2 linked regions of the Homo sapiens genome follow. The protein of the gene in region 2 interacts with the protein of the main gene of each other region in a biochemical or structural test. Each region holds a gene or a part of one and is shown on either strand. Other genes may lie near its edges.

Region 1 (3,500 bases), on a different chromosome or scaffold from region 2:
CAGCACAGGCTGGAGGGTCAGGACAGGCGGCAGCCAGGGTGAGGGGGGCCGGGGCTAAAGGTTCAGCGCATAGCACTGGGGCGAGAGGTGGGCAGGGGCGCGTGGTCAGTAGATTGGGCGTAGGGGCGGGAGAGCCACCAAACAGGGTGGGGGTGCCAAGATAGCCTGGGGTAGGAAACCAGCAAGGTGTGGAGGGCTCCCCCACCCTCCACCTCTCCAGGGCCAAGACAGACACTGAAGTGGGGGTTATCACAGGCCCTGGATGGTGCGGGGGAGGGCAAAGGGGGCCTGGGGGTTCTTCAGACCAGAGTCAGATAAAGTGGGGCAGGCATAGACAGAGACCAAGGCCATGCACATAGGCCCCATGCAGTCCTCTTCTTCATTATAGTTTGCTCACTCATTCAATGATTCATTCATCAATCTGTTCATGCCTTAGTTCATTAATTTAAGCACTATTTCATTTAGTCATTCAACAATTCTTGCATTAGTTCATTCACTTATCCATGCCCTAGTTCACATATTCATATATTCCTTCATTCAATGATTCATTCATTCATTGATTCTTTCCTTAGGTCATTCATTCGTGCCTGCAGTCATCCATTATGTTATTTTATTTTATTTATTTATTTAGAGACAGGGGTCTCCCTATGTTGCCCAGGCTAAGTCTCAAACTCTTCGGCTCAAGCAATCCAACCGCCTTGGCCTCCCAAAGTGCTGAGATGACAGGTGTGAGCCACCATGACCGGCCCCACTTTTTTTTTTTTTTTTTTTCCAGGCAGAGTATTGCTCTGTCGCCCAGGCTGGAATACAGTGGCACAATCTAGGCTCAATGCAATCTCCGCCTCCAGGTTCAAGCGATTCTCCTGCCTCAGCCTCCTGAGTAGCTGGGACTACAGGCATGCACCACCTTGCTGGGCTAATTTTTGTATTTTTAGTAGAGATGGGGTTTTGCCATGTTGGCCAGGCTGGTCTCGAACTCCTGACCTCAGGTGATCCACCCACCTCAGCCTCCCAAAGTGCTGGGATTACAGGTGTGAGCCACCGCCCCTGGGCCCCTTATGCTTTTTTTAAATTGATACCTTTATGTATTCTCCATCTTCAGCCCACTCCCGTATTCAGGCATTCAGACATTCCTTCATTTACCATCATCCTATTTAAAAATGTGCACCCCCCACGTACTTTCCCCTCTCTCCTTCCCCGCTCCATTTTCTCCCTCAGATATACTTCACATTCTACCCATTTATCTTGGTTTCTGTCTGTCCCCCCCTCGCTAGAATGTAATAGCCACAAGGTCAGGGATTTTGTTTTATTTACTGCTATATCCCCAGCACCTGCACACAGCAGGTGCTCGAGCGATATTTGTTGAATGAATGAATAAATTCATTAGGTCACAAATGGATTCTTTTTTTTTTAATTCATTCACACTTTGTGCTCATCCCTGCATTCGTCCATTCCTTCATTTGCTTATTTGTTACTTTCATTCATCTGTTTGTTTCATTTGTTACTTCCTTCAACAAACAACTGCTGACTGCCAGGTGGGCCCCCTTTCATAAAGGAGGGCACTGAGGCTTTACTCCAAACCACAGCTTCATGTTTGCCAAAGCTCTGCGTGCTCCCCTGACAGCAAGGCTCCACGGGAAACTCTGGGCTAACCAGAGATAACCCAAGGTCCAGGCCGCAGGACTTCTCAGAGCCTTTAGCCTGCTCTGTGTCTTGGGGCTGATGAAGTGAGTCTTTTGCTGGGTTCATTTGGCACACCTGCAGAAAGGCTGCACACTTGACTTCCCCTCAACTGCGGGAAAGTCCCTTAAGCCTCCTCAGGCCTTAGTGGCCCCATCTCAAAAAGAGGGGTGATCATCCATGACCCAGCCCTTCCCTCTCACACAGTATTTGGGGGAGGAGTGAGTGAGAACAGCTGCAGAGGGTCTGGGTGGGACCCCAGGGCTGGGAGGCAGACAGCCCTCACTTCAAGTCCTGACTTTCTGACTTTCCAGCTCTGTGACTGTGCGTAGGCAACTCAGCATCTCTGGGCCCCAGTTTTCTCATGTTGAAAATGGGCATAAGCAGACATGCAATAGAAGACTGCTGCGTTTGCCAGCTGTAGCAACAGTTGCTTGTGGGGTTGCTGAGAGGATCAATTGAGATAAATACCGTGTCTACTCTGATGATTCCAAAATCTGCCATCTTTGGCCCCGTCTTCTCCCCTGGGAGCCAGGTTCATGACCCTTCCCTGGAGAGGTTTAACAGGCACCTTGAACTCAGCTCTGCTCTCCCCTGCCCCAAACCTGCTCCTCCTGAAGTCTTCACATAGCAATTCCTGGCAGCTCCTGCGCTTCCGGATGCTCTTCCTTGGACCCCCAAATCTTGGTCTCATCCTTGACTTCTACCTCATATCCCACCTCCAATCTGTCAGTAAATCCAGTCATCTCCACCTTCAAACACATCCACATCTGACCACTGCTCCCCACTGCACTCACACCACCCAGTCCCCGCCATGTTATCTCTCCTGCCTGGACCATTGCAGTAGACTCATGACTGGCCTCTGTAATCCATTTCCCATACCGCAGCCAGAGGGATCCTGCTCAATGCAAGTCAGATCACATCTTTCCTCTGCTCAAAATCCTTCCTGGCTTCCGCTCACTTGGAGTAAAAGCCAAAGTCCTTGCCATGACCTACAACGAAATCACACATTGTGGGGCCCTGTCCTCCTCTGGCATTGTCTACCTCCCCCTTATCACTCACTCCATTCCAGCCACCCTGGCCTCCTTGCTGTTCCTCAAATACACCAGGCACTGTCCAGCCTCAGGGCCTTCTCACTGGCTGTTCCCTCTGCCTGGAATATGACCTCACCATTCCCAGATGTTCTCATCATTTCCTCCCTTCTTTCTTACAGGTGTGTGTTCAAACATCTAAAAGTGCAGCCCTCCTATTGCTGTCCTCTGAGCTTGCTTTATTTTCCTCCCTGGCACTTGGCATTACCTGACTGACTATATATATATATGAGAGAGAGTCTTTCTCTGTCACCCAGCCTGGAGTGCAGTGGCGTGATCTCGGCTCACTGCAACCTCTGCCTCCCAGGTTCAAACGATTCTCCTGCCTCAGACTCCCAAGTAGCTGGCATTACAGGTATGTGTCACCCAGCTGATTTTTTTTGTATTTTTCGTAGAGACGGGATTTCACCATGTTGGCCAGGCTGGTCTCGAACTCCTGACCTCAGGTGATCCACCTGCCTCAGCCTCCCAAAGTGCTGGGATTACAGGTGTGAGCCACTGCGCCAGGCTGTGACATGATGTATTAATCTGCATGCATTCTTTATGCTGCGTATCCTCACTCTAGGCTGTCAGCTGCAAAGTCAGGGATCTTGTCTGCTTTGCTCACTGCTGTACTCCCAGCACCTGGCACAGTACCTGCACACAGTAGGACCTCAAAACCTGGAAGGCATTTCCATTGTTAATTGGCATCTTCCTCGGGTGCCTGGCCCAGGGATCTGCAACCAGATA
Region 2 (3,500 bases):
CTCTTTTACCATAAAGTGGGGAGAGTACTGCTTGCCATGGCGCCGGCCGTGAGGGGCAGGGAGGCCGTCGGGGAGGGCCCAGGAGAGTTGCGGGGATTGACCGTGGGCGCCGGGTCTCACTCACCCGCGGACGTCCATGGGGTCCAGCTCCCTCCGCCGCCGCCCACCCTCGCTGCCACCAGGGAGCAGCGAGGCCTTCACCTGGCCCAGCAGGGCGTCAGGTGCGGCCCAGCCCTCGGCGGCACGCTTGATGGGGTGCTTGCGCAGCTCCTCCTCGCGGCCGTAGTAGGGGAAGATCATCTGCTGGCCGTGTGCGTCACGCTTGAAGACCACGTTGGTGTGCAGCACGCGGCTGAGCTCCCGCAGGAAGTGGAAGGAGCTGTTGCGCAGCTGCTCCGGCGGCATCAGCACCACCACCACCAGCGTGCCGGCCGCCAGCCTCTCGGGTACATGCTCCGCACAGTCCAGCCCGTCCCACTCGCACTCCGCGCTGTTGCAGCCCTGGTCGCAGTGCCCGTCGCTGAAGTGGTCCTTGCAGTACTGGTCGTACAGGGGGCTGTGGGGGGCGGGACACGCTCAGGCCGCCTTCCTCGGGGGGCCTCGCACCCGCCGTCCGGTGCCTCCAGCCCACTGGCCAGCCGCGGGGGACGTCCCTGCACCCCCTGAGCAGAGCCTTAGAACTGCATGCTGGCCTCCGGGCCCAAGCCAGGCCACATCCAAGTTCAGGTCCTCCCTCAGCCCCATGAGCCCCGCAGCCTTACTTGCACTGGCCTTCCGCACGCTGGCAGTCAAAGCCGTCGAAGAGGCAGCCGGCTGAGTTGCACTGGCTGTCACAGTGGCCGTCACTGAAGTACTTCCAGCACTGCAGAGACTGCGTGCAGTTCTTCCAGGGGTCATTGAAGTTGAGGGAGCAGTCACCGCCGTCCCAGCCGCACGCGTGGTTGTTGCACTGCAGGCTGCAGACCTTGTTGCCCGCGTCCTCCTGGCACTCGGGCAGCTCGCACGCCTCCTCGATCAGCGGCGGGGGGATGTCGCGCCCGGCCCCACCCCCGAAGCTGTAGTCCAGGATGTGGCACAAGAGCCCGTTGAATTTGGCGGGGCACAGGCAACGGTAGAAGGGGCTCTCGGATGTGGGCTCACAGGTCCCCTGGTTGTAGCAGGGGTTGCCGCCCAGGCAGGGGCTGCTGGCCGGGAACTGGCATTCGGGGCCCGTGAAGGGGCCCAGGCACAGGCAGGTGGGGCTGCGCGGGCCGGAGATGCATGTGCCGCCGTTGAGGCAGCGCAGGCTGCCGCAGGTACGAGCGTCATTCTCACACGTGGCGCCCTCGAAGCCCTGCCCGAGAGGGAAGACAGGACGGTGTCGGGGTGGGCCACCCCCCGCCCCCCCGCCACCTCACACCCAGCCCTCGGCCAGCAGTGCCACCGCTCTCCTCTAACCTGGGAGGCGGCCTGCAACCTTGCCCCCAGCAGCAAAACCCTTTACACACATTCTACCAACAGAGAAAGATCGGGGGTGCCAGGGGGTCGGGAGATGGAGGAAGGGGTAAACTGGTGGAGTGCTGAGGACTTTAGGGCAGGGACTCTCTGCCGTGATCCTGCGAGGGTGGGCAGGCATGTCATACCTCAGCCCAAACCCACAACCACAAAGCCAAGGGCAAGCCCCAGGTACAGGAAGGGCTGCTGTTGGTAACAATGTATCACTGAAATCCAGAGTGAAATTGATGCAAGCTGCTAACCAGGGGAACTGCGTGCAGGGGACAGCCACCCCAGGGAGTCTACTTCCTGCTCCATTTTTCTATAAATCTAAAATGTCTCTAAAATCATTTATTGAAACTAAAAAAAAAAAAAAGACATCAGGGTGAGGAGGAGGATGAAGGCCGGGAGGATCACTGCCCGGTCTGCGCCCCGAGGCCCCCACGTGGACCTCTCCAGGTGTCTCCCCTGGCGGGCCCCTGCCTCCCTGCACCCCTGCACCTACCGCAGGGCACTTGCAGATGAACCCGCGGGCGGTGTTGGAGGCCACGGCGCAGGTGCCCCCATTCTTGCAGGGCTTGCCTTTGCAGCCATTGATGACGGACTCGCAGCGGCGCCCTAGGGGTAAGAGCAGGGCAGTGAGAGGCTCACCCTGCTGCCCCACACGCCCCACCCGCCTGGGCGCGGCACCCACCGGTGTGACCAGCACGGCACTCGCAGTGGAAGTCATTGACGCGCTGCACGCAGTTCTGGGTGCCACGGGCGTCGCAGGGATTGGACAGGCACTCGTTGACATCCCCCTCACAGCGCTCACCCACGAAGCCCGGCGGGCAGGTGCAGCTGTAGCCGCCCACCTGGTCCACGCAGGTGCCGTTGTTAAAGCACTTGGGGCTCCGGGACACGGGGTCAACGGGGGGATTGCAGTCGTCCACGTTGATCTCACAGTGCACACCTGCGGGGCCAGGTTTCGTCAGTGGCCCAAGCCCGCCACACCCCGGCCCTGCCGTGCCGCGTGTCCGTCCCGGAAGACGAGCGCTCAGGTCTGGGGCTGCACGGACACTCGGGAGAGGCAGGTGTCAAGGGTGCCGTGGAGACGCCCTTCCCACTGGGACCCCCGCTCTGGGCCCTTTCCCTGGGCAGCTGTGAGTCGGCCTTGGCCTCACACAGGAAAATGGGAGTTTCTGGCTGGTTCCTGGATGCCTCTGGCCGGTCCCGGGGTGCCTGCCCTGCCCCTGCCCTGGCCATGGATGGCCAACACCAGCCCTCCGTGCAGCGGCCCTTACCCTGAGTGCCCCGTGGGCAGGAGCACTTGTAGGTGTTGGGGAGGTCGAGGCAGGTGCCCCCGTTCTGGCAGGGGTGGGAGAGGCACTCGTCGATCTCCTCAGAGCAGTTCACCCCGTGGTAGCCGGCCACGCACTGTGCAGGCGACAGAACGAGGGGCCCTTCGGCTCAGCCGGCGCCAGGATGCAGTGCTCCCACACCCCACTGTGAGGGCTGACAGGGCCACATGAGCTGCCCTCAGGTCCAGCGAAGCCACGGGCCCCTCGCTCCTGTCAGACCTGGAGAGAGACCCAGCCCAACAGACCCTGGCGGGGCCTCGGTGACCGGAGTCACTGCCTGTTGGGGGTGGGTGGACCCCGTCCCATAGGATAGAGGTGAGGGCCTCAGGGTAGGTGTTGGCCAAGCCCAGACACAATCTAGGGGAAGGGAAAACCCCATCCCACTTCTCAGTATAGGTACCCTCCTTCAGGCTTTCCACAGGCCACCTCTTCCAGGCAGTCTACCCTGATTACCCCAGCCCTCCCCTAATGAGACTGAACAGTGCATGGGCCTATCAGGTTCAGTTTTCTCCACTGGGCCAGCTCCCAGCCAGGGCCTGGTGTGTGGCAACACTCGTGCCGGCCACAACCCTTACCCTAGGAGGGACCCCCACCTTGCAGGAGTAGCCGCCCAGGTAGTCCGTGCAGGTGGCCCCGTTCTGGCAGGGGCTGGGTGAGCACTCGTCCACCAGGTCCTCACAGTAGCTG

What was found.
Region 1: the proteins of NOTCH1 (region 2) and DTX1 form a complex in vitro, tested with the Homo sapiens proteins (one study listed by BioGRID).

Annotation. Positions count from the first base shown.
Region 1 is NC_000012.12:113,073,730-113,077,229, reverse strand, and holds part of DTX1 (E3 ubiquitin-protein ligase DTX1), read right to left. Parts: intron 1-3,500. UniProt on the Homo sapiens protein: Functions as a ubiquitin ligase protein in vivo, mediating ubiquitination and promoting degradation of MEKK1, suggesting that it may regulate the Notch pathway via some ubiquitin ligase activity.
Region 2 is NC_000009.12:136,504,549-136,508,048, forward strand, and holds part of NOTCH1 (neurogenic locus notch homolog protein 1 preproprotein), read right to left. Parts: coding exon 3,407-3,500; intron 2,890-3,406; coding exon 2,757-2,889; intron 2,426-2,756; coding exon 2,168-2,425; intron 2,092-2,167; coding exon 1,979-2,091; intron 1,334-1,978; coding exon 762-1,333; intron 557-761; coding exon 125-556; intron 1-124. UniProt on the Homo sapiens protein: Functions as a receptor for membrane-bound ligands Jagged-1 (JAG1), Jagged-2 (JAG2) and Delta-1 (DLL1) to regulate cell-fate determination.